Linked DNA regions of Homo sapiens. The protein of the gene in region 3 purifies or fractionates together with the protein of the main gene of each other region. This does not show direct contact. Each region holds a gene or a part of one and is shown on either strand. Other genes may lie near its edges. The genes, in order: TRIOBP, ACSF3, HAUS2, SQOR, NEMF, SDE2 and PRRC2C.

Region 1 (3,500 bases), on a different chromosome or scaffold from region 3:
GGGCAACAGAACGAGACTCTGTCTCAAAAAAAAAAAAAAAAAAAGAGGACCTTCAGACCCCAATGGGAATGACGAAGCCATGGTGGTCAAGGTTGGAAGGGCCCTCGGAGGTTCGTGAGTCCCAGGTTTCTCATTGCGTGTGTATCAGGTGCTCTGTGTTTACATGCATGGGGGCTTGGCAGCAGACTACATCAATCACAAAGTCAGAAAAGGACTCTTCTTCACTCCTTCAATAACTTGAAGAAGAAAATCTCGGCCAGGCGCGGTGGCTCACACCTGTAATCCCAGCACTTTGGGAAGCCGAGGCAGACAGATCACAAGGTCAGGAGTTCGAGACCAGACTGACCAACATGGTGAAACCCTGTCTCTACTAAAGATACAAAAATTAGCTGGGCATGGTGGTGGGCACCTGTAATCCCAGGTACTCAGGAGGCTGAGGCAGGAGAATTGCTTGAACCCAGGAGACGGAGGTTGCAGTGAGCTGAGATTGAGCCACTGAACTCTAGCCTGGCGACAGAGAGAGACTCCGTCTCAAATGAAAAAAAAAGAAAGAAAAAAAAGGATTCTTCTTCACTCCTTCAATAACTTGAAGAAGAAAATCTTGAGACCAGGTGCAGTGTCTCACACCTGTAATCCCTGCAGTTACAGAGGTTGAGGTGGGAGGATCACCTGAGCCCAGGAATTTGAGACCAGCCCTGGCAACATAGTGAGATCCCATCTTTACAAGAAAATTAGCTGGCCATGGTGGCATGTGCCTGTAGTCCCTGCTACTCAGGAGGCCAAGGTGGGAAGATCATTTGAGCCTGGGAGGTCGAGGCTACAGTGAGCCATGTACTATAGGTTGGACCACTGCACTCCAGCCTGTGCTACAGAGCAAGACCCTATCTCCAAAAAAAAAAAAAAAAAAAAAAAAGAGAGAGAGAAAGAAAATCTCTAGATGATGCTGGTGTATTCTTAACATCTCTCTAACATCTGCTAATCTCCCTTTTTGACAAAGAGACAGCAGGATGCAAGCTCAGAGCCTTCCATAGAAAACACTCTCGAGGCCAGGCGCGGTGGCTCACGCCTGTAATCCCAACACTTTGGGAGGCTGAGGCGGGTGGATCACCTGAGGTCAGGAGTTTAAGACCAGCCTGGCCAATATGGCGAAACCCCGTTTCTACTAAAAATACAAAAATTAGCTGGGCATGGTGGCAGGCACCTGTAATCCCAATACTTGGGAGGCTGAGGCGGGAGGATCGCTTGAACCTAGGAGGCAGAGATTGCAGTGAGCTGAGATCACACCATTGCCATTGCACTCTAGCCCAGGCGACAGAGTGAGACTCTGTCTCAAAAAAAAGAAAAAGAAAAAGAAAACACTCTCAAGTTAGGGTGTAACGACATTTCTGTTTTGTTTTTTCTTTTTCTACCTTTCTTCTCTTTTTTGTTTTGTTTTGTTTTGTTTTTTGAGACAGTTTCATTCTGTTGCCCAGGCTGGAGTGCAATGGCGCGATCTCGGCTCACCACAATCTCCGCCTCCCAGGTTCAAGTGATTCTCCTGCCTCAGCCTCCCAAGTAGCTGGGATTACAGGCATGCACCACCATGCCCAGCTAATTTTCACCATGTTGGCCAGGCTGGTTTCAAACTCCCGACCTCGGGTGATCCACCCACCTCGGCCTCCCAAAGTGCTGGGATTACAGGCGTGAGCCACCGTGCCCAGCCTCTACCTTTCTTCTTAACCTCTTCTTCTTAACAGGAAGTAATTCTAGTTTTCTACTTGTGTTGATGATGTGAAGTTTTGTTTCAATAGAAGGGGAAAAAGATGTTGATTTAAAGAATAACAAAGTAAGTAACAGATTAGATAAGGCTATGGTAACAATCGTATCATATAAGCAGGAGGAAAGTGACTGAAGATTGTGAAACATTCACATGGTTCAACCACTTCCCTGCAATGTGGGAAAACCGAGGCTCTCGACAGGAGGAAGTCCAGCATCTGGGTTCAACTGCGAGTTAGCGGACACCACAGGCCCAGTCCTTCACCCATGCCCCCATCACAAACCACCCCAACCACGTGGAAAACTGGCCCACCTGGTATCTTGCTCCATGGGCCTCCTCAGGGTGGAAGCAGTTTTGACAGCGGTTCTGGGTAAGTATGTTGGCCTCAAAGTGTTCACACAGGGCATCCCCAGGCACCTCCTCCATATTGGGTGAGTCAGGCCAGGGCAGTTCCTATGATCCAATGGCTGACCGTCTATGTGAGGCCTGGCAAAAATGAGGGGGAGGCAAAGACCAGATGACTGGCTGGCCACTCACCTGAACCCCAGCCCCAGTTGCCCCAGTTTCCAGACAAGGACCAAGGAAATAAGGTTACTCATCCATTCCTTTGGGTTCCTGTTCTCCATCCATTCCTGTTCATTTATTCACTCAACAAACACTCACTAAGCACCTACTAAGCACCAGGCACTCTGCCAGCATTTGATGTGCGATTTCTAGTCCTTACTGCAGTGTTGCTGAAAGTGCACGCCAAGGACTCTGCATTACACCCTCCTGGGCTGTTCATAAAAATGCAGATACCAGGCCAGGCACAGTGGCTGATGCCTGTAATCCCAGCACTTTGGGAGGCCGAGGTGGGCCGATCACTTGAGGTCAGGAGTTCGAGACCAGCCTGGCCAATATGGTAAAACCCTGTCTCTACTAAAAATACAAAAATCAGCCAAGTGTGATGGCACGTGCCTGTAATCCCAGCTACTTGGGAGCCTGAGGCAGGAGAATGGCTTGAACCCAGGAGGCGGAGGTTGCAGTGAGCCAAGATTGCGCCATTGCACTCCAGCCTGGGCGACAGAGTGAGACTTCATCTCAAAACAAAAAACAAAAAAATGCAGATTCCAGCTGGGCCCATTGCGGGCGGCGGATCATTTGAGCCCAAGAGTTCAAGACCATCCTGGGCAACTGGCGAAACTCCGTCTCTACAAAAAATACAAAAATTAGCTGGGCAAGGTGGTGCAGGCCTGTGGTCCCTGCTACTCAGGAGGCTGAAGTTGGGAGGATCACCTGAGTCTGGGAGGTCGAGGCTGCAGTGAGCCATGACTGTGCCACTGCACTGAGAAAAAAAAAAAGCAGATTTCAGCTGGGTAAGATGGTGTGCACCTGCAGTCCAAGCTACTCGGGAGGCAGAGGTGGGAGGATCTCTTGAGCCCAGGAGTTTGAGGTGGTAGTGTGCTATAACTGCACCTGTGAATAGTTACAGCACTCCAGCCTAGGCAACATAGCAAGACCACATCTCAAAAAAAAAAAAAAAAAATCTAGATTCCCCTTTCTCTCTCCCAATTCACACAGTTAGAATCTCCAAGAGACTGAGGTCTGGGGCTGTGCATGTTAAAGAAGTGATTCCAGCCGAGGGCGGTGGCTCACGCCTGTAATCCCAGCACTTTGGGAGGCTGAGGCAGGCAGATCACTTGAGGCCAGGAGTTCAAGACCAGCCTGGCCAACATGGTGAAACCCCGCCTCTACTAAATACAAA
Region 2 (3,500 bases), on a different chromosome or scaffold from region 3:
CCCAATAACCCTGAAGCTTCAGGGTCTCTGGATCCCCCTCCTCAGCCGGGGACTCCTCTCCCTGTGCCATCTGTCTGGGGCTCCTTCCTGTTCGCCTAGGAGTTCTGATTCCAGCGTGGGGAAGCTGAGCCTCCCCTGGGTCTCTGGGCTACTATCTGCTCCTTGGCGCCCTCGGTGTGGACGGCGGTCCCTGGGCTGCTCCTTGGCGCTCTTGGTGTGGACGGCGGTCCCTGGGCTGCTCCTGACGCTCTCAGTGTAGACAGTGGTCCCTGGGCTGCTCCTGACATCCTCGGTGTAGACAGCAGTCCCCGGGCTGCTCCTGACTCCCTGGGTGTAGACAGTGGTCCCTGGGCTGCTCATGACTCCCTCGGTGTAGACAGTGGTCCCTGGGCTGCTCCTGATTTCAGCTTCTCAGCCTTGTATCTGTTCCAGTAAAAAAGGCTAGGGGGGCACTGTCCATCTTCTCTAGTGAGGGCCATTGAAGAGGTCACCGTGCTCCTGGGAAGTGCATCACTCACCAGCCGCGTGACCGTGGGCAGGCTCATGGGTTCTTGTATGTGAGTGCAAAATATGACCCCATCGCAGGGGCTGTTTCGAGAAGATCAAAAGAGAGGACGCCCACAAAGCAATGCTGTGGATGAACAGTCATCATGAACTACAAACTGTGCAGACAGATTCTGAATACACAGAACTTGTCCTGCTCACATGTCCGGAACAAAGAGAGGACAAAGCCCAGAGCCCGTTACCCTTTCAGTCCTCACTTGCCTGCAGCCTGCAGCCTCAGCGAGCCGGGCTTTGCTCATTCCGTCCATATTACGTGGTGACTGTGGCCGGTGGCACTGGACAAAACCAGCACATCCTACTAAGAAGGACAACGATAAGGACAGAGACTCAACAGACCAGTCACATTTGATTTCAAGGTCCCCATCTTATTTCCACCAGAGAGCTTTAGCCACCGAAGAAACAGCTGGTGCCGCAGCCATCGTGGAGATGCGCGAGTCAGCCCAGAGCAGGGGCCGCTAGCACTGACGGAGGTGGAGGTTTCCTGGGGTCTGAGACTAACGCGGGAGCCGGCCCAGGGCAGGGGCCACCAGCACTGACGGCGGTTTCCTGGGGTCTGAGACTAGGATGTATTTCTCATCACTCACACTGACTTCTTTTCACAACATGCCCCCACCCGCCCACTGCCCTGGGCACTGTTGCAGCAGGCACTGCACTCTGTGCGGCCACCCCACTGGCAGCTCTGCACGGCAGCTGAGGATCTCGCTGCCATGGCCCTGTCATTCTGCTCAGGATGCCCCAGCCAAACCGAGACTTTACACTCAGAATACACTTAACAGCCCCCATGGCTCCCCAGGCCCAGCAAAGGGGCGTGAGCCTACAGTCTCTCCTCCTCCCAGCCCAGCAGCCAGCCAGCCCTCACACTCACCTTGCAGGCCCCAGCACCGTATCGCTGCCTGGCACCAGCTGGTCCCTGCCTGGGCCTGAACCCCCATGTCCACGCTTACCCTAGAGTCCCAGGAACCAAGCAGGCATGGAATGAGCCAAAGGGCACACGGAAAGCAATGGGACAGAGCAGAGCCCAGGAGCCGACCCCTCAGGAGTCGACGGACTTTCAACAAAGATCCAAAGGGCTGTTCGATGGAGAAGGGAGTCTTTTCAACGAACAGTGCTAAAAAGTTAGACATTCACACACTAAAAAAGAACTGTGGTCCGTATCTCGCACTATGTACAAACATTAACTCAAAATGGATCATGGTCCCAAACGTAAGAGCTGAAACTATTCTCTGTGACTTTGGGCTACGCAAGGATTTATTAGATATGACATCAGACAATTCACAAAACAAATTGATAAACCGGGCCAAAACCTAAAACTCCTGATTTTAAAGACGCTGTTAGGTGAATGGGAAGACAAACCACAAGCTGGGAGATGATATTTAAAATCGCACAGCTGACACTTGGGTCCCGAATTTTAAAAGCTCTCAAAACTCAAGAAAACAAAGGCCCCAGTTGAAAACGGAATGACACGAACAGGAAGAGGTGCTCAACGCCACCCATCATGAGAGAATCATGAACTCAACGAGACACCACCACCGCCCGCTGGAGCAGCAGGTGCTCGTGACCTCCCACCCATTGCAGGGGGAAGGGGATGGTGTAGCCGCTCTGGAGAACAGCTTGAAAGCTTCAGACAACACAGCAATCTCTCTCCTAGGTATCTGCCCAGGTGAAATAAAAAACCACGTTCGCACAGAAACCTGCACACAAATGTTGATAACATCTCACGTGTCATTGCTTAAAACAGGGTCACAAGCGGTGCCGCACCCACACCACGGATGCCACTCAGCAGGGAAAGGCGCGGGCTCTGACGCACACAGCACAGGCAGTTGACTGTGGGCGGAAGCCGGGCGGAAGCAGACAGGCTCAGAGGCCACGTCCTGCAGGATTTAGCCACGTGGCCTCCCAGAAAAAGCAAAACCACAAGAAGAGAAACAGGAACAAGGGGCCAGGCCTCGGGGGTGGAGGAGGTGCTGAGCACTAGGAAGGGAGTTTCTGAGGCGAGGAACCCTTCTCTATTTTGACTGTGATGATGTTTCTTAAGACACACAGAGCTGCACGCCAGAGGGGTGAATTTTTACTGGGTCTGCAGGTAAGCAGCTGCACAGACAGATGTGCGGGATGGTCTCACTTTAAGTCTGCACTGAGATCTCTCTTCTACTCTAGACAGACTGGAAGGGCTGCGCAGAAAGCAGCAGGGTGGCCCCCCAGCTGTGGGCTCTGTTCCCAGAAGTCCCAGCGGAGGACCCAGGGCTCAAATGGTTGGGTCAGATGAAAGTCAGAATGGGATGTGTTAGGGAAGGCTGGACAAGAGGGGCCCGGTATCAGGAGCCCACATCTAGAGAAGGAAGACAGGTGCTTGACTCATCCCACCCTGCCCACCACACCCACCTCTCCTGGCACTGCTGCTGGCGCTGTGTGGCACCCGGACTCCAGACAGACGGAGGCTGCCACCACTGCTGATGTGGTCTGGAGCCAACAGCATGGCCCCCCGCCTTCCTCTGAGACATGCACTGACGCCTGCATTCCAGGCATTGCTGTTCTTCCCATTGTCTCCCCAGTCATACAGCCAGGGGCCAGCACAGACACCTCCCCCATCCACCCGACTGAGACTTGGGAGAAGGCTGATCTACCCAGAGGGGACAGGTCGCAGTGCATCCTGAGTGCTCTCCTGGCCGAGTGGCCTGTCCCACGGGGGAGCATCCTCCATGCCGCCCTTCAGTCCGAATGTGGGTGGTTCGAGACTGGCCCACCTTGGGGGGCTCAGAGCACAGTGGAAGAGGAACGCAGCTGTGGGAAGTGCTCGTACCTGGCAGGCGCACGGCAGTGGTCAGGGGCCCGGACAGAGCCATGCCGATCTCGGTCATGCCATACCGCTCCAGCAGGGTGTGGCCCGTGATGTTCTTCCACTTCTCCAGCACTGGGAGGGGCAGGGCAGCTGAGCC
Region 3 (3,500 bases):
CAGGCTGGTCTCAAACTCCTGGGCTCAAGCAGTTCTCCTGCTTTAGCCTTCCAGAGTGCTGGGATTACAGGTGTGAGCCATCATGCCAGCCTGTATTTCTAAATAAGTATTATGTATGATTATATTACTTCTTCACCAGAAAATGTTCAGTTGCTCCCATTTTCTGCAGTATGATTGTTGAGCATAGCACTCAGGATCATCTATGATTATGTTGGAGACTATGTTTTCAGCTACATCTTACCCCTCTTTTCACATATATGCTAACACTGGTGGTTATTGAGCATTTGTAATGTTTTTGATCTTTCTATCTAGAATACCTTTTTCTTCCCATCCATTATGAGCCTCATGAGGGTAGAGAGCTTGTTTCACTCATATTTGAATATTTCGTTGACTAACTCAGTAAGTGTTCATAAAATTGATTATTTTTGGACAGTAAACTTTTACTATGAAGAGCCAGAGAGTAAATATGTAAGGCTTTGTGGGCCATATGGTTGCAGCTACACAACTAGGTGGTTGTATAAAAGCAGCCAGAGATAGTGTGTAAATGGATGAGAGAAGTCATGTTCCAATAAAACTTTATTTCTGGACCATGAAATTTGAATTTCAGATCATTTTCTTTTCTTTTTTAAGACGGAGTTTCGCTCTGTCACCCAGGCTGGAGTGCAGTGGCGCGATCTCGGCTCACTGCAACCTCTGCCTCCCAGGTTCAAGCAATTCTCCTGCCTCAGCCTCCCAAACTAGCTGACTAGCTGGGATTACAGGCGCCTGCCACCACGCCTGGCTAATTTTTTTTTTTTTTTTTTGAATAGAGACAGAGTTTCACCATGTTGGCCAGGCTGGTCTCAAACTCCTGACCTCAGGTAATCCACTTGCCATGGCCTCCCAAAATGTTGGGATTACAGGTGTGAGCCACTGCGCCCAGGCTTTTTTTTTTTTTTTTTTTTTTTGAGACAGGGTCTCACTCTGTCGCCCAGACTAGAGTGCAGTGGCAATCTCAGCTCACCACAACCTTGTCTCCTAAGCTCAAGCAATTCTCCTGCCTCAGCCTCCCGAGTAGCTGGGATTACAGGTGTGCACCACTCCTGCCTGGCTAATTTTTGTATTTTTAGTAGAGACGGGGTTTCACCATGTTGTCCAGGCTGGTCTTGAACTCCTGACCTCAAATGATCTACCCACCTCGGCCTCCAAAGTTCGGGATTACGGGCATGAGCCACTGTGCCCAGCCTGTTATAAAATATTGTCTTTGATTTTCTTTTTCCCAACAATTTGAAAATATAAAAACCATGCCTGGTTCACAGGCTGTACAAAAACAGGTAATGGGCTGCATTTATTTCATGGACTATAGTTTTCCAGTCCCTGGCCTATCTGATCTCTAAAGTTCTTTGGCCTGGACGCGGTGGCTCACGCCTGTAATCTGGGCACTCTGGGAGGCTGAGGCGGGTGGATCACCTGAGGTCAGCAGTTCTAGACCAGCCAGGCCAACATGGTGAAACCCCAACTGTACTAAAAATACAAAAAAAAAAAAAAAAATTAGCTGGGCATGGTGGCAGTAATCCCAAAAACTCCCAGCTACTTGGGAAGCTGTAATCCCAGCTATTTGGGAAGCTAAGGCAGGAGAATCAGTTGAATGCAAGAGGCAGAGGTTGCAGTGAGCAGAGATGTTGCCATTGTGCTCCAGCCTGGGTGACAAGAGCGAAACTCAGTCGGTGGCTCACGCCTGTAATCGCAGCATTTTGGGAGGCCTAGGTGGGCAGATCATGAGGTCAGGAGATCGAGACCATCCTGGCTAACACAGTGAAACCCCGTCTCTACTAAAAAATACAAAAAAATTAGCCGGGCATGGTGGTGGGCGCCTGTAGTCCCAGCTACTCGGGAGGCTGAGGCAGGAGAATGGCATGAACCCAGGAGGCAGAGCTTGCAGTGAGCCGAGATTGCACCACTGCACTCCAACCTGTGCGACAGAGTGAGACTCCATTTAAAAATATATATATTATATATAATATATATTTTATATATAATATATATTTTATATATATTATATATTTTATATATAATATATATTTTATATATACATTATATAATGTATACATTGTATATAATGTATATTATATATAATATATACATTGTATATAATGTATATTATATATAATATATACATTGTATATAATGTATATATTATATATATATGAAGTTCTTTGCTGTGCTAGCATTCTAGAAAGCAAGATGATAGAGAAAATTATGGATGAAGTCTAGGAATGCACAAGATAATACTCAATTCTGAGATAATGTGCATGGACTCATGGAATGAAAGGATGAAAAAGAAGGGGTAACCTTTTTAAAAGAATAATTATGCCTGGATACAAATAATCCTTTAACTAAAAGATGAGAATGTGAACATACACAGTATGAATGACTTGTAGGCAACTGAGGTCATTTAACGAATCAGATAAATAATTCCATGAAGGCGAAAATATTTGATTTCAACCCCGGAAGCTCTGAGAGACTGGGCCTGAGTCATTTGGAAAGGTAGAGGTGATTCTCCAACAAATTTAGCCTTTGAATCCTTTGATAAACTATCAGTAATACAAATCTATTTTGTATGGTACCTTAGGAAATAATACAAAGGGAGTGTGTTGTTTGTTTCTCTTATTTTTTTTTTAAATATTTGAGCAAGTGATTTGTGATGGTGAAGGTTCTAAAACAGGAATTACACATTGCTACTATTTTACTTTGTACTTCATGTTCAAAGGCAGTGTTGAACATAATATTTTCTCATATTTTAGACTATGGGCATGCTATTCCAATGTACCTAGAAACTTTTTGTGACATTCTGCTACTTTCCTTATTCATTTACCAATAGGAGATGTTAAACATGTCTAAGAAAACAGTTTCTTGTTTTGTGAACTTCACCAGACTACAGCAGATCACAAATATTCAAGCTGAAATCTACCAGGTAAATCATTTTGTTTTCACTTTCTTTTTTTTTTTTTTTTTTTTTTTTGAGACGGAGTCTTGCTCTGTCACGCAGGCTGGAGGCTGGAGTGCAGTGGCACAATCTCGGCTCACTGCAAACTCCGCCTCCCAGGTTCACGCCGTTCTTCTGCCTCAGCCTCATGAGTAGGTGGGACTACAGGCGCCCGCCACCATGCCCGGCTAATTTTTTGTACTTTTAGTAGAGATGGGGTTTCACCATGTTAGCCAGGATGGTCTCGATCTCCTGACCCCATGATCTGCCCGCCTCGGCCTCCCAAAGTGCTGGGATTACAGGTGTGAGCCACTGCGCCCGGCCTGAACTTTTCACTTTCTACTCCTAGTATAGGAAAACAAAAACAAAAGTTGGCCAGATGTAGTGGCTCACACCTATAATCCTCGCACTTTGGGAGGCCAAGGTGGGAGGACTGCTTGAGCCCAGGAGTTTGAGACCAGTGTGGGCAACACAGGGAGATCCCGTCTCTACAAAAAATTTTAAAAGTAACCAGACATGGTGGCACACACCTGTA
Region 4 (3,500 bases), 3.1 Mb from region 3:
GTTAGCTGGTGCCAAGTGAATTTTTGTCCTATTCCTTTGACTCAACTTTTCCTGGCATCGAGTCACTTGAGGTAGCCAAAAATATTCCACAACTTTGGTTACTGTGTAGAGGTAAGGGAGGGCTTCCTCGAATGCAAGATCTGGTGATTGTCTCAATTGGTGGCATGTGAGAAACAGTCCTGCTTGTGAGCAGGAAGTAACCCTGTGGGTAGTTGAAGAAAACAGGGATTGGCTGGGCATGGTGGCTCACGCCTGTAATCCCAGCACTTTGGAAGGCCAAGGCAGGTGGATCACTTGAGGTCAGGAGTTCGAGACCAGGCTGGCCAACATGGTGAAGCCCCATCTCTACTAAAAATACAAAAATTAGCTGGGCGTGGTGGCACATCCCTGTAATCCCAGCTACCCGGGAGGCTGAGGCAGGAGAATCGCTGGAACCCAGAAGGCGGAGGCTGCAGTGAGCCGAGATTGTACCACTGCACTCCAGCCTGGGTGACAGAGTGAGACTCCGTCTAAAAAAAAAAAAAAAAAGAAATAATCTCAAACTTAGAGAAGTTACAAAATAAAAATAGTACAAAGAAAATTGTATGTAGCTTTTACCTAGATTCACTTGTAGAATTTTACCATTTGCTTTAGCTTTATCATTTGATTTCTTCCTTCCTTCCTTCCTTCCTTCTTTCCTTTCTTTCTTTCTCTCTTTCTTCTATCTGCCTTTGTCTATCTATCTATCCATCCATATCTAGTTTTTCCAAGGAAATTTACATATATCATGCATCAGCTCTCTTTAGCCCCAAATACTTTAGTGTTAATTTTCTAAAATAGAAGTGTTCTCTTACATAACCACAGTACCATTATCAACTCAGGAAATTTAGCACAGATACAATTTTTTAACTTACTATTTGTATTCCAATTTAGTTGATTGGCCCAACTGTGTTTGTAGCATTTTTTCCTCCAGTGCAGGACTCAGGCTACAGTCAGGTATTACATTCAATTGTGAGGTCTATTTAGCCTCCTTTAATCTGTGATGTTTCTATAGCTTTTCTTTGTCTTCTATGACGTTGATATTTTGAAATAATACAGCCCTCTCCCCCACCACTTTTCTTTCAGTAGAATGTTCCTCATTTTGAGTTTGTCAGTGTTTTCTTGTGATTAGTTTCAGGCTTTGATATGTATTTATTTATTTATTTATTTTTGAGACGAAGTCTCGCTGTGTTACCCAGGCTGGAGTGCAGTGGTGCAATCTCAGCTCACTGCAGCCTCTGCTTCCCAGGTTCAAGCGATTCTCTTGCCTCAGCTTCATGAGTAGCTGGGACTACAGGTGTGCACCACCATGCCCGGCTAATTTTTTTATTTTTTATTTTTAGTAGCGGCGAGGTTTCACCATGTTGGCCAGGCTGGTCTCGAACTGCTGACCTCAAGCCATCCACCTGCTCGGCCTCCTGAAGTGCTGGGATTACAGGCATGAGCCATCGCACCTGGCCTCAGGCTCTGTTTGTTAGACTGGAACATTGCATAAGCATTGTGCCATTCTAAGGTATCACATTTGCAAGCATACAGTGTTCATCTGCCCTTCATTGGTGATGTTAATTTTGATCAGCAGTCAAGATGTGGTCCAGTTTTTCCAGGGGATAATTACAATTTGTTTTCTCCCTTGCTACTAATAAGAAGTCTGTGGGAAGACACTTTAAAACCATGTAAATAGTCTACTCATTCAAGTCTCCCCACTAGAGTTAGCATCCATTGATGATCCTTGCCTAATCAAATCTTTACTATGGTGGTTGCAAAATGGTGATTTGCTAACTGTGACATTTCCTGCACATTTACCAGTAAGCTCTTGGCATTCTTTCAGCGAGAGTCTTTGCTTCTTAGTTAATTAACTATTGGTATGAACTCATGAGTTCCTATATTTTTTCTTACAGTGTTATCATTCATTATTGTTTTTAATTATTATGGTGCTCAAATTGTTTTGGATTTGGTCAGTAGATTTCCCTTCCAGCTGGCTCTTGTGTCCCTGTGACATGCCCCATCATGTGTTTGAGCACTTCCTTTACTTTCTGGTGTCACAGGTTGTCCCAGGCTCATCTAGTATCTATCTGCAGCAGCTCAGGGTCATCATTTTGAATAGCTCCTGTGTAGTTATGCACACAGAGGCTACTGGAATGTTTGGAGCTAGTTATCACTTTATAAAAGGGTCTCAAATTACTGCTGTTTGTTTTTTGTGTGTCCTTTTTGTAGTTTTCCTTTTTCCTGGCTGTCAGGCCGTTGTTAGTGACTTTGGGAGGTCCCTCCAGCTTTAGCTTTTTTAAATTGCTGCTCCTCAAATGGCCTCACTCAAATGGGCTATGAGTGAGAGCTCATATGAGTGAACTCATTTTTACTTTACAAAAGAGCCCATTTGAGAGAGTCCGTTTGAGTGAGCCCAAGTTGGGCTTTCACTAAAATGAGCTATGAGTAAGAGCCCGAAGCATCCTTTTATGAGCAAAGTGTATGAACTTGAGTGCATGAACTTAACTTTGTTAGTACTTCGTTTCCCAGCTGTCCTCTGGATAGCTGAGGTTGTAGGTAGGGGTGTGGATAAATGAATGGTTATTATTCTTCTAAGGGGTTTGTAATTAAAGAAGATATTTGTGTCCCCTTTGAATTATAGGATTTCAGGTCAGATATTTAGTTCCACTCTTAAAATCTGAATTTCAAAAAATCCACCAGAAGGATGTAAAGCTGTGGCTCTTAACCCTGGCTACATATTAGGGAGCTTTTAAAATGTGCTGATGCCTGGCCTCTTTATAAGAGGTTTTAATTAATTGGTTTGGGGTGCAGATTGAGGATGGGGAGTTTCAAAAATTCCCCTAATGACTAATGTTCAACCAGGATTGAAAACAACTGGTGTGAAGAATTGGGCCGGACGTGGTGGCTCAAGTCTATAATCCCAGCACTTTGGGAGGCCGAGGCGGGTGGATCACGAAGTCAGGAGTTTGAGACCTGCCTGGCCAAGATGGTGAAACCTGTATCTACTGAAAATACAAAAATTAGCCGGGCATGGTGGCAGGAGCCTGTAATCCCAGCTACTTGGGAGGCTGAGGCAGAGAATTGCTTGAACCTGGGAGGCGGAGGAACTAGAAGACACTTTGGAGATTGTCTAGTCTAGTGCATTTCTTTATGGATAAGCAAACTAAAGACCAAAGAGATGAAGTGACTTGTCCAAATAATAGCATTCTATTTTTCTTTGTAAATGAACCTGTTCCTTCAAGCCAGAGATTGTAAGCATGTGATCCACAGATTTTACATATCAGAATCACTAGCAGATTTTAAAGTACAGATTCCCGTGCTTTACCCAGATCTACTAGATTGGGATCTTGGCATGGTGTAGCCTGGGAACCTGTATTTTCCACAAGTCTCCCCAATGCTGCTAATAAACATTAAAGTTTGAAAACCACCACACTGATTGGACTATGTATGTTAATGAAGGAGGACCAAGTTATTTATCCTATACAGTTACAGAAATA
Region 5 (3,500 bases), on a different chromosome or scaffold from region 3:
AGGGAAGGGAACAACTACTGTAGGGTGGGAAAGACTAAGCAAACTAAAGCACTCCAGGAAGAGGCCCTAGAACAGAATGGACAATAAAGCCTTTTCATTTGAGAAACATAATCATTGAACAATTACAGAGAATTCTGAGCACATAGCCCTGTGCTAGATACTTACTGAGTATACAAAGAGGTGAAGTATAAAGCTCATGCCTTCAAGAAGCTTTTGAGTCCTGGATTCAGGAAGTAGTCATAAATATGTAAATAGTGTCTGAAAGTGATAAAGTAGTTCAAGAGTAAGAGATTGCTGTGAGTTCAGATGTTTGGGGAAATAACATCAGAAGTATACCTTGAAAGATATGTTAGCAGTTAAGTAAATGAAGGAGGGAGACTCCAAGGAGAATTAGCATTAACAAAGGGGAGTGCTTCTTTGGGGTAATATGCATAGTGCTTTGGGGAAATGATAAATAGACTGAGTTGGAAGGAAGAGAAAGTTTGTGTATTAAATGGTAGATAATATGATTGGAGAAGTAAATTTGGACTAAAAGTGGAGTACTTAAAAGCTAAGGATTTTGGACTATACCCTTTAAAGTGATACGAAGAGAATGTGACATAGGCAAATGATTAAGGAAGATTAATATAGAAGTTAATGGCCGGATGTGGTGGCTCACGCCTATAATCCCAGCACTTTGGGAGGCCAAGGCGAATAGATCACCTGAGGTCAGAAGTTTGAGACCAGCCTGACCAACATGGTGAAACCCCATATCTACTAAAAATACAAAGTTAACTGGGTGTGGTGGCACAAACTCCGTTTTAAAAAAAAAAAATTCAGAGTATGTAGACTCTGGAGGAAGTCTGGGTGGGATGTAATGAGGACCTGAACTAAGACGTTGGCATTGGGAACAGAAAGAAGAATACCACAGTAATAAAATTTACCCTTCCTTCTTAACCTGTGTATTTTTAATCCATTTAGTCAACCAACCGGTCAACAGATGTTTTATTGAATGCCTAAGACCTGCCAATGCTATGTTGGTACAAAGACTACAAATCCCAGTGCCTGGCCATCAAGGTGATCAGGGGCAAAATGTGCCTAGTGAGTAAGGATGAGTCAGGGGTGACAATATGTTGAGCTTGGATGATGGAAAGAAAGATAAATCCATGAGAGATGAAAAACTTGCATCTTTTTCCCACATGATGATTTTAAGCATCTTTGTATTTTCTAACTTGGTGATTATCAAGTGAAGCAGAAGCCATGACCATTTATATACTGTATATGTGCCTTCCCCATGGAACTTTTTTAGGGCACTAAGAATTTCAAATTCTAAGAATGAAATGTTTTCATGTCTTTTTTATTCAGGGAAATGAAAAAGAAAAAACTTCCAAGTGACTCAGGAGATTTAGAAGCGTTAGAGGGAAAGGATAAAGAAAAAGAAAGTACTGTACACATTGAAACTCATCAGAACACAAGCAAAAATGTTGCGGCTGTGCAGCCAATGAAACGAGGACAAAAGGTAAACTTCAGGATGATCTATATGGTTCACAGTTAATTTGTGAGGTTCCTTTTTAATTTTTTAAAGTTGAAGTGAAATAGAAAATGTAGGCCAAAAAATAATCCTGTGTGATTTCCTTTGACTAAAAATTAGTTGAGTAGATACAGCATTTAGGGAACACAGAGATCACTATTAGAAGTTCTTTAGACTTTCAAGATCATCTGCACAGAAGCTCTCATTTTATCTGGAAGAGTAATAGGAGATTATGGCTTGCCAAAGTCACCCAGCTAGTTAAGTAGCAGAGCTGATATTTATTGAGAATTTAGCTCAGTAATTTTTAGATTTTGGTTAGAGTTCTTAGATATTTTGCTAAAGGTGGATGGTGAAGAAAGAAGTACTTATGATAGAACATACTCTTTCCACACTGCCCCTGCCCCCACCTCCCCACCCCCCAACCCCGCTGTCAGCTCCCCCAAGATAGTCTTGCTCTGTCACCCACGCTGGAATGCAGTGGTGCAGTCAGGGCTCACTGCACTAGCCTTAACTCCTAGGCTCAAGTGATCCTCCCATCTCAGTCTTCCAAGTAGCTGGGACCGCACAGGTGCATGCCACCATGCTCAGCTAAATTTTTTTATTTTTTGTAACGATGGGGTCTAACTATATTGTCTGGGCTGGTCTCAAACTCCCAGGCTCAAGTGATCTTCCTGCCTCACCCTCCCAAAGTGCTTGTAACTAGAGGTGTGTTAGCCACCATGTCTGGTTATGATATAATACACTCTTCAAAATGCTGTAGCAGCCAGGCACAGTGGCTCATGCGTGTAATCTCAGCACTTTGGGAGGCTGAGGCAGGTGGATCACTTGAGGCCAGGAGTTCAAGACCAGCCTATCCAACATGGTGAACCCTATCTCTACTAAATATAGAAAAATTAGCCAGGCATGGTGGTACATGCCTATAGTCCCAGCTACTCGAGAGGCTGAGGCAGAAGAATTGCTTGAACCCAGGAGGCGGAGGTTGCAGTGAGCCAAGATCACGCCACTGCACCGCAGCCTGGGTGACATGGCGAGACTCGCCTGTCTCAAAAAAAAAAAAAAAGCTGTAGCAGTATAAAAATGAGGGGATTATGGGCTAATTTATCAGTGTACCCCTTTTAAAATTTAAATTTCTTTTCAATTTTTTTTTTTTTTTTTTTTTAGAGACAGGGTCTTGCTCTGTTGCCCAGGCTGGAGTGTAGTGGCTATTTACAGGCATGTTTGTAGCATACTACAGCTTTGAACTCCTGGGCTCACGCATTCCTCCTACCTCAGCCTCCTAAGTAGCTGGGACCACAAGTGCATGCCACCACACTAGGCTATAATCTTTATAAAGATGTTTTATGATCTTTCCTTCTTCCATACAGGTCAGATTTTCCTATGCTTTTTTCCAGTGAGCTGCAAATGACATGTGCATAAGGAAGGGAAGACTCAACCTAATAAAAATATAAATTCCCCTCATATGTAAATTCAACATGACTTTAATCAGAATTGAGATTTTAATGCTTGATAAAATAATTGTAAATTTATTTTGGAAGGAGTAATGCTTGAGAATAGCTAAGGAAATAAGGAGGGATTTCCCTATGAGGTAGTAAAATATTTAATGCTAGAATTTTTACAACAGCATGTTATTAACATAGGAATAGCTAGACAGAAAAAAATGAGACAGAATAAAATCTAGACAGAGGACCACTACCTGATATTTAGCATTTTAGTACGTGATAAAATAATATTGTAGATCATTTGAGAAGATATGAAATATTCAAAATGATGGCTAACCATGTGAAAACGGTACCACAGTGAATTGCAGGTGGAGAAAGTAAAGAACCACCAGTAAAATTAAAAAACAAATGACAAATCTGGAAAAAAAAAAAAGTGATGACAGAAATGCTGTGTAAACCTGGGGAATTTTTTTTACCCATCAAATTAATAGATACTACATTGTCAGTTTGAGTGTACAACATGGGAATTCCAGTCAAAAGTCTTAACAGTG
Region 6 (4,098 bases), on a different chromosome or scaffold from region 3:
ACTCAATTTAACTGCTTTTAACCATTTGTGCATTGTAAAGTGCTTCAAACACAAATTATCATGTGTGTTTTAGCACAACCAGCCTAAGGCTATCAGAGATAAACCTGTCAAACTTACTGATTCACTGCAACGAGGGGAACTGCACACCAGGAGTCATGGGTATCTCACCAACCCAAAGAAAGGAGTGTCATTACAAGATTTGGGGCTAGGGTGGAGTTGAGGTGAAATTTACATCAAGCAGTGTTTAAAAAGGTTCAAAATAAAGCAGGACTGTATATAAAAACGTCAACATCAGATCTGGATTGTGAAGGCTCCTCTTTCCTTGGAAACTACAAATTTAAGATAAATGTGGAAAGTTGTGTCCAGAAACCCTTAATGGGAAGCTCTGACCTGGGTTGGAAATCAAGAATGCTTCTCTACAAGGCAAGAGTGGGAAGGTTCCCTCTTATTGAGAGAACTTTAAACAGCAAAATTTCTTATATATTCTATGGTTTTTGAGACCAAGGTTTCTCAGTGAATAAGAAAGCAGCAGACCTTCGTGGGGGTCGTTATGACATTATGACACATCACCATTTCCTGTTAACTCTGCAGCTGTACATCGGTGTAGTGTGGGGGAAACAAAAACAAAAAACAAAAACTTTGCAGCTGGCTTTATCTGTGTCTGTTATCCCAGCCTGATGAAAAGCAGGGCAGATTTTTATTTTCTCAGTGGGAGTTAACACTAACTTCATCATGTCTCAGAATAGTTTTGTTTTTAAAAACATAGGTGTGAACTTGAGCTATTCTTACTTGTTCCAGTATCTCAACTAATATTCTTTTGTGTTTCTATTCATATTTGCTATGGTCATGTTCCTTAAGTTTCTGACTGAATCCACTCATTTATATTTCTTTATATATACTTTTTCAGACCGAGTCTTGCTCTGTCACCCAGTTTGGAGTGCAATGGCTCAATCTCGGCTCACTGCAACCTCCACCTCTCAGGTTCAAATGATTCTTCTGCTTCAGCCTCCTGGGTAGCTGGGATTACAGGCGTCTGCCGCCACGCCTGGCTAATTTTTGTGTATTTTTAGGAGAGATGGGGTTTCACCATGTTGCCAAGCTGGTCTCGAACTTCTGACCTCAGGTGATCTGCCCGCCTCGACCTCCCTAAGTGTTGGAATTACAGGCGTGAGCCACCACGCCTGGCCTATATTTCTTGCTTCCGATTTAAAAATTCTTTTTTCCAACATACCTCATGATTAAGATCCTATTTTTTCTGGTTTCACTTTGGATCAATTGTCAGCAAGTTTGAAAACTGTACTCATAGGCCGGGAGGAGTGGCTCAAGCCTGTAATCCCAGCACTTTGTGAGGCTGAGGTGGGCGGATCACCCGAGGTCAGGAGTTCAAGACCTGGCCAACGTGGTGAAACCCCGTCTCTACTAAAAATACAAAAATTAGCCAGGCATGGTGGCGGGCGACTGCAATCCCAGCTATTTGGGAGGCTGAGGCAGGAGAACCGCTTGAACTCAGCGAGGCGGAGGTTGCAGTGGGCCGAGATCACGCCATTGCACTCCAGCCCGGGCAACGGGAGTCAAACTCCGTCGGGGGTGGGGGAGGGGGAGAAAAGAACACTGTACTCATGAAATAAGAATTATTTTCAAAGGAATTAGAATGCAATTATTTTCATGGTCAAAAACAGTTGTGCTTACAGTTTTTAGACTGGATTACAGAGCAGGAAGGAAAACATGGAAAGTGAAAAACCGTATTATTTGCAAACACACATTGCTTCTTCACGGAATCGATCCAAGTCTCTTAAAATTTTGGTCTAGACTGCAGTGTTAACATTTGTTAAGCTTATAAATAGTAAGCAGAGGAAATAGCCGAGGAAAGCACGGATGAGGTGCGGAAAGAACAGAGTTCTAGATCAAGTGCCAACATTAAAATTAGATTCAGGGAAACCACTAAATTCTTTTGACAACTGAACAGGTTTAATATCTTATAGCTGGTAAAAGCTTACTTACTTGAAAGTTCAGTAAAAGCTCACGTGTAACTCTGGAAGTCCCTGGTAGGTTTTCACAAATATGCACGGACAAATGAGACCATCAAATTAATAGTGAACACTTCTACGTAACAGGCCCTAAGAACCCAGGCCCTCAACAGGACACACGTGTGAATGCTTGGTCACAACGACTGACCAGAAGAATCAATTTTCCTTCCCAATCATCCTTTGGCCTGGGTTTGGATATGACATACTTCTCTAGGCTGGGGCTAACAAGGCTGTGTGATGAGTGGACAAAATACACGTCACATAACCATAGTAAGAAGGTGAAGACTGGAGCCTTAAAAATCAGCCGGCCCAACTGCCAGAAGACCATTATATTTACGGATAAAGAAAGAGAAACAAAGTATTTGTAACTGTGAGCGGGACTAAGTGCCTGTAACAGTTTTTTTCTCCCTCTTGGTGGGAAGGCAAAACCACCACCACAAAAGAAAAGCAAAGGAAGGTCTCAGTAACAATTCGAAGCACCTTAACACTGAGGAACTCTCAGCCTCAACGAGTGAAAACCCCAGAGAATAAACGTACCCCCGCCCCGGACAGACCTACTCCGCACCCAGCGCTGCCACCTGTCTGCCTCTTTCTCCTTCCTAACAGGAACCGAAATCCTCACCTGATCTTGGCAGTGCCGGTGGATAAAATCCCGGACGGTGCACCGACCCGAGGCACACCGCACCGCCTTGCACCCGAAGCCAGGGCCGCGAATCCACACCAGCGCCGCGGCCTCCGCCATGTCACCGACTACCCGAACCTCAAGCCTCTCTGAGACACCAGGCGCCGCAACTCGCCCGGCGCCTCTTGATGACGCGAGCATCTTCCAACGCCCCGCCCCTCACGCTTCCGTTCACCCCTCCCCTCCCCTGGGGCGGGTCAAGTGAGCCGGGCGGCGGGGCGGTGCGGGCTGGGGGAGGGGAACAGGAAAGGCCTGGCGGAGGCAGATAAGGCGGCAGAGCACGGGGCGAGGCGTTGCTAGGAGAAGTTGCTAGGGCGGGGCTCGAGGGACCGGCTATAAAAGGCTGGCGCTGGGTTAGGTTTCGAGCTTCCTGGCCGTAAGCGATAAGGCTTTAACTGAGAACCACCTTGTGCTGTAGGCTTTGGCCCTTTTCCTCACATCTGTGTAGTTATTTTTGGGTCGCGGAGAATTGTGGCCCGAGAAGGCTCTGCTCCTTGAGAGTGTGGGGAGAGAAGCTGCAGTCCCGGAAGCGGTTTTAGGGGGCCGCTTCCTTGGCCTAGAGGAGCTCCCCAACCCGAGGGGGCAAGGGAAACGACCCCCAGGAGGCCCCTAAACAGTGGCCGGCGTGGTTTCTCCTCCAGCTTTACAGAGCCTTCTCTTCCCCTCCAGAAACAGCCAACCTCCGGGTTTCTGCCTGCCACGCACGGTTTATTCTTATTTCCGCCTGTTTGTGCACTGCGTTATCTCCACTTCAGCTCTGTTTTCAAAATATTTCACAGCAAGTGGGCTCTTGTGAAAGGCAGTGACAGGAGTGACGTTTATAGTCATGCTGCTTCAAAAAACCCTACCATAACTTTTATTCTGCACCATGGAAACACACTCGGACAGATTTGCATAACGTAACCTTAAGGCTCAGGGAATCCGAAAGAGTCCCTTAATATTTAACAGAATGAGATTATGGTATTTCTAAAACCCTGAACAATTCAAAAGCCACCAGTGTGAAGATAGGAAGGTTATTTGGAGATATCTGTGCCTGCTAAACACAAATGCATCGGCCCACAGAATTGCCTTCTCTGCTGTTAAAATGCTTGGCAAATGGAACTCCTAGCTGAGGGGGTAACAACAAAAAATTCAGAAATCGTTTAGCGGTGGCAGTATGTGCGAAAATGGAATTTCAAGGCCTGGGAAGTTAATAGATTCAGTGGTCTTTATTTCACACACGAGGGAAAGTTGGGGAGAGAAAGGGCCTCCATGGGGATGCCAGTAGATAAATAAAAATTACAAAAAAAAAAATAATAAAGATAGATTGTACTGGCCGGGCGCGGTGGCTCATGCCTGTAATCCAGCACTTTGGGAGACTGAGGCGGGCGGATCTCGAGGTCAGGAGTT
Region 7 (3,500 bases), on a different chromosome or scaffold from region 3:
TTTTATATTTAAAAGAATGTGGTCAATATGAAATAATTTGGCCTGGATATGTTGGACCCTGTCCTTTTCCATGTCAATAACTTGAATAAAGACTTGGAAAGTAAACATGGCATATGAAATAATATATACATCTGAAGGAGTACCAATGTATTCCATGACCAAGATTTTTAAAGGTCTTAGAATGCTAGGCAGAATTAAACAATTAGTTATACAGTCATATTAACAGTTCAGAAACTGGATTTCATAAATGCAGAATACAGACCCAGACTGTCATGTGAAAAAGGTTCTAGCTGTGACAGCTAGTAGTGTGACAATACTGCTTTATAAAATTTTAATAGAAATCTAATGCACAGATTTGGAGTCATAACAGTTCCACTGAATTTTATGTTTGTCACAGTATGTTTAGAGTATTATGCTCAACTCCAGGCTTCATGAAGACAAACATTAACAAACGACTGAATGCAAAGGAAAAACTGTTCAGTTTATCCATAAGTGAGTAAGTTACATTAAACTAAAACTTATAGCATTACTTTAACAATTTGCCAAATAACCCAAAGAGCTGTGAAATGACGTGTAATTTTGCTAAAGCACAAAATGTAACTAACATGCCATGAGGTATGCATCTAGAAAATAAGCTTGGATATCCCTCACCACTCCTAATGCTGAGACCCCAGGCCCAGAGCTTTGTTTTCTTTTAGGGGATACAATAACTCTTACAAAGAGAAATCTGTTTCTTTCTTGAGGGAGGGGGGCAGGGTGGGGAAGAGCAGTGAAGAGGAGGCCAAATCCTAGTGTAGATCACGGAAGGCGAAAGTGAAGAGGTTTGAATGCTAAATACGGAAATTTGTAAGATCTTAGGACATATGCTTTGTGAATGTTAAGGGGTGACTGTAGTAACCTACTAATCATCAGATGGATCCAAGCAAAAGCAAGGTAAGCCTGTCAGAAATATTATAAAGATAATTCTTGCTTTGAGTAAGAAGTTGAATTGGCCACTTACAAGGTCTCTTCCATTTCTAGTAGTTAAAATGAACTAGTAATTCTAAGGTCAAATATTTTAAGAGTACATTTGCCACTATAATAGTAAAGCTAAGAATACCACCATATGTTGAATTCTTTTACTACAAATAGCAGTTCGGCAAAAACATCCAAAATGGTCATTTTTTAAAAAACAAAGTGTAATATAAATAAATCTGCTGGAGTTCTAATCAGGATAGTGGAAGGGCTCAGGCTGTTCCTGGAAACTGAAACATGTGAATTAAGTTTCCGGAGTAGGATAAAGCCTTAACAATCAGAACAGAAATGTAGCTATCAAATTTTCTGTACTAAAAACTGCTGTCCTTAAAAAGTACAGCTGTTCTGTCTACCGATTACTTAATGAGGTGATTGCCAGGGCATTCTTTTTAACAACTTATGTATTTTAAAATTGTTAAAATTACACAACTGTTTCTCTTAAAACTGTTTTTGTTTAAATTCTAGCTCTAATATTTAGTAGCTAGGTGACCACAGGCAAATTACTTAATCTCAAATTTTTTACTTCCTCACCTGGGTGGGCTATAATATCTACTCCAATACTATTATAAGATTTAATTAACAAAGTGTGTATAAAGCTCTTAGAATAGTGTAAAGCCTGTAACAAAAACTTATTAAGTGGTAATCAATATTTGCAAAACTAATATATTAAAAAGAAAAACCCAAGCATAGATAATTTCTTCTCTTTTTTTTTGAGACAGAGTCTTGCTCTGTTGCCCAGGCTAGAGTGCAGTGGTAGGATCTCCGCCTCCCAGGCTCAAGCAATTCTCCAGCCTCAGCCTCCTGAGTAGCTGGGGTTACAGGCGCCTGCCACCACAACTGACTAATTTTTGTATTTTTAGTAGAGATGGGGTTTCACCATGTTGGCCAGGCTGGTGTCAAATTCCTGACCTCAAGTAATCCACCCACCTTGGCCTCCCAAAGTGCTGGGATTACAGGGTGAGCCATCGCTTCAGGCCCAAAGCATAGATAATTTCTTAGTCAACCTTTATTTATTATTTTCCTTTTCAACAGTTTTACTCTGTCACCCATGCTGGAGTGCAGCAGTGCCATCACTTTGCAACCCTGAACTTGAGCTCAAGTGATCCTCCTACCTCACCCTTCTGAGGAGCTAGGACTACAAGTACATGCCACCCCATCCAGTTAATTGAACTTTGTTTTTTGCAAGGCCAAAGTATGTTGAATGTTATGAGAGTGAAAGAGAAGTACTTGCTCCAAGATGCTCATCTAGCATTATGAATTATGGTTAATCTTTTGGAGGACCAAAGGGTTGCCTTTAAAAGTCAGAATATTAATTTTAAATTTATTAAGTGTAGAGAATTGGTTAACATCCCTCCGTATCATTGGCCCTCTTCTTCTACCACTGAAATATCCAGTCTTAAGACATGTAAACCTATTTCCTTCCTTCTCTTCTTTTATTATTTTATTTTATTTTATTTAAATTCCCCGGCCAGGCGCAGTGGCTCACGCCTTGTAATCCCAGCACTTTGGGAGGGCGAGGCAGGTGGATCATTTGAGGTCAGTTCAGGACCAGCCTGGCCAACACGGTGAAACCCCATCTCTACTAAAAATACAAAGATTAGCCAGGTGTGCTGGTACACACCTGTAATCCCAGCTACTCGGGCTGCTGAGGCAGAAGAATTGCTTGAACCTGGGAGGCAGAGGTTGCAGTGAGCCAAGATCGCACCACTGCCTCCAGCCTGGGCGACAGAGAGAGACTCTGTCTCTAAATAAATAAATAAATAAATAAATAAATAAAATTAAAAAAATTCCCCTACCCTCTTGCTTTTAATAAGAAACAGGGTCACCTTAATGTTGTCCAGGCCGGAGTGCAATGGCTATCCCACTACTGATCAGCATGGGAGTTTTAACCTGCTCTGTTGCCAACCTGGACCAGTTCACCCCTCCTCAGGCAACCTGTTAGTCCCCCACTCCCAGGACACCCTATTGATGCTGAATTTAGTGCAGACACTCAGTCCATATGTAGAACACAGTGCGCTACCCTCCACAACTCCTGGGCTCAAGAGATCCTTCCACCTCAGCCTTCCAAGTAGCTAAGACCACAGGCACATGCCACAACACCCAACTCCTTCTTTTTCTTTCTCCTACTTTCATTCTTTCTATGTTCAAGTTTGTCATAAATATAACAGTATAATCAAAATATTTTTTCTTTCTAATCAGAAAACAAATCATTCAGCATGGGTAGGCCATTCTTGGCTTTTTCCATCCCTCTTTAATAGTTATTTCTTCAAGAGAATTTCCCTGTCTCCAAAATGCCAGAAGACTCTAGTTCTACAGTTGGGAGATGTTTTATCTTTCTACATTCTGTATCCTAGTTGTGGGGGCTACAAAAATCCATACGTACTAAAACTTAAAGAACTGTACACCACAAATCAAATTTCCAAATATAAACTTAAAATTCACCTGTCTAAAGCCTCCTTTGTTTTCAATGTCCTCTGTTTTCAAAA

What was found.
Region 1: the proteins of HAUS2 (region 3) and TRIOBP purify together in Homo sapiens (affinity purification with mass spectrometry; one large-scale study listed by BioGRID and IntAct). This does not show direct contact.
Region 2: the proteins of HAUS2 (region 3) and ACSF3 purify together in Homo sapiens (affinity purification with mass spectrometry; one large-scale study listed by BioGRID and IntAct). This does not show direct contact.
Region 4: the proteins of HAUS2 (region 3) and SQOR purify together in Homo sapiens (affinity purification with mass spectrometry; one large-scale study listed by BioGRID and IntAct). This does not show direct contact.
Region 5: the proteins of HAUS2 (region 3) and NEMF purify together in Homo sapiens (affinity purification with mass spectrometry; one large-scale study listed by BioGRID and IntAct). This does not show direct contact.
Region 6: the proteins of HAUS2 (region 3) and SDE2 purify together in Homo sapiens (affinity purification with mass spectrometry, with the first as the bait; one large-scale study listed by BioGRID). This does not show direct contact.
Region 7: the proteins of HAUS2 (region 3) and PRRC2C purify together in Homo sapiens (affinity purification with mass spectrometry, with the first as the bait; one large-scale study listed by BioGRID). This does not show direct contact.

Annotation. Positions count from the first base shown.
Region 1 is NC_000022.11:37,700,048-37,703,547, reverse strand, and holds part of TRIOBP (TRIO and F-actin-binding protein), read right to left. Parts: intron 2,243-3,500; 5' UTR 2,183-2,242; coding exon 2,069-2,182; intron 1-2,068.
Region 2 is NC_000016.10:89,114,352-89,117,851, reverse strand, and holds part of ACSF3 (malonate--CoA ligase ACSF3, mitochondrial isoform 1 precursor), read right to left. Parts: coding exon 3,365-3,500; intron 863-3,364; exon of another isoform or gene 766-862; intron 1-765. UniProt on the Homo sapiens protein: Catalyzes the initial reaction in intramitochondrial fatty acid synthesis, by activating malonate and methylmalonate, but not acetate, into their respective CoA thioester. May have some preference toward very-long-chain substrates.
Region 3 is NC_000015.10:42,555,338-42,558,837, forward strand, and holds part of HAUS2 (HAUS augmin-like complex subunit 2), read left to right. Parts: intron 1-2,860; coding exon 2,861-2,953; intron 2,954-3,500.
Region 4 is NC_000015.10:45,676,529-45,680,028, forward strand, and holds part of SQOR (sulfide:quinone oxidoreductase, mitochondrial), read left to right. Parts: intron 1-3,500. UniProt on the Homo sapiens protein: Catalyzes the oxidation of hydrogen sulfide with the help of a quinone, such as ubiquinone-10, giving rise to thiosulfate and ultimately to sulfane (molecular sulfur) atoms.
Region 5 is NC_000014.9:49,793,789-49,797,288, reverse strand, and holds part of NEMF (ribosome quality control complex subunit NEMF), read left to right. Parts: intron 1-960; exon of another isoform or gene 961-1,056; intron 1,057-1,344; coding exon 1,345-1,498; intron 1,499-3,500. UniProt on the Homo sapiens protein: Key component of the ribosome quality control complex (RQC), a ribosome-associated complex that mediates the extraction of incompletely synthesized nascent chains from stalled ribosomes as well as their ubiquitin-mediated proteasomal degradation.
Region 6 is NC_000001.11:225,996,544-226,000,641, forward strand, and holds the start of SDE2 (splicing regulator SDE2), read right to left. Parts: upstream 2,801-4,098; 5' UTR 2,770-2,800; coding exon 2,650-2,769; intron 1-2,649. UniProt on the Homo sapiens protein: Inhibits translesion DNA synthesis by preventing monoubiquitination of PCNA, this is necessary to counteract damage due to ultraviolet light-induced replication stress.
Region 7 is NC_000001.11:171,492,030-171,495,529, reverse strand, and holds part of PRRC2C (protein PRRC2C), read right to left. Parts: intron 1-3,500. UniProt on the Homo sapiens protein: Required for efficient formation of stress granules.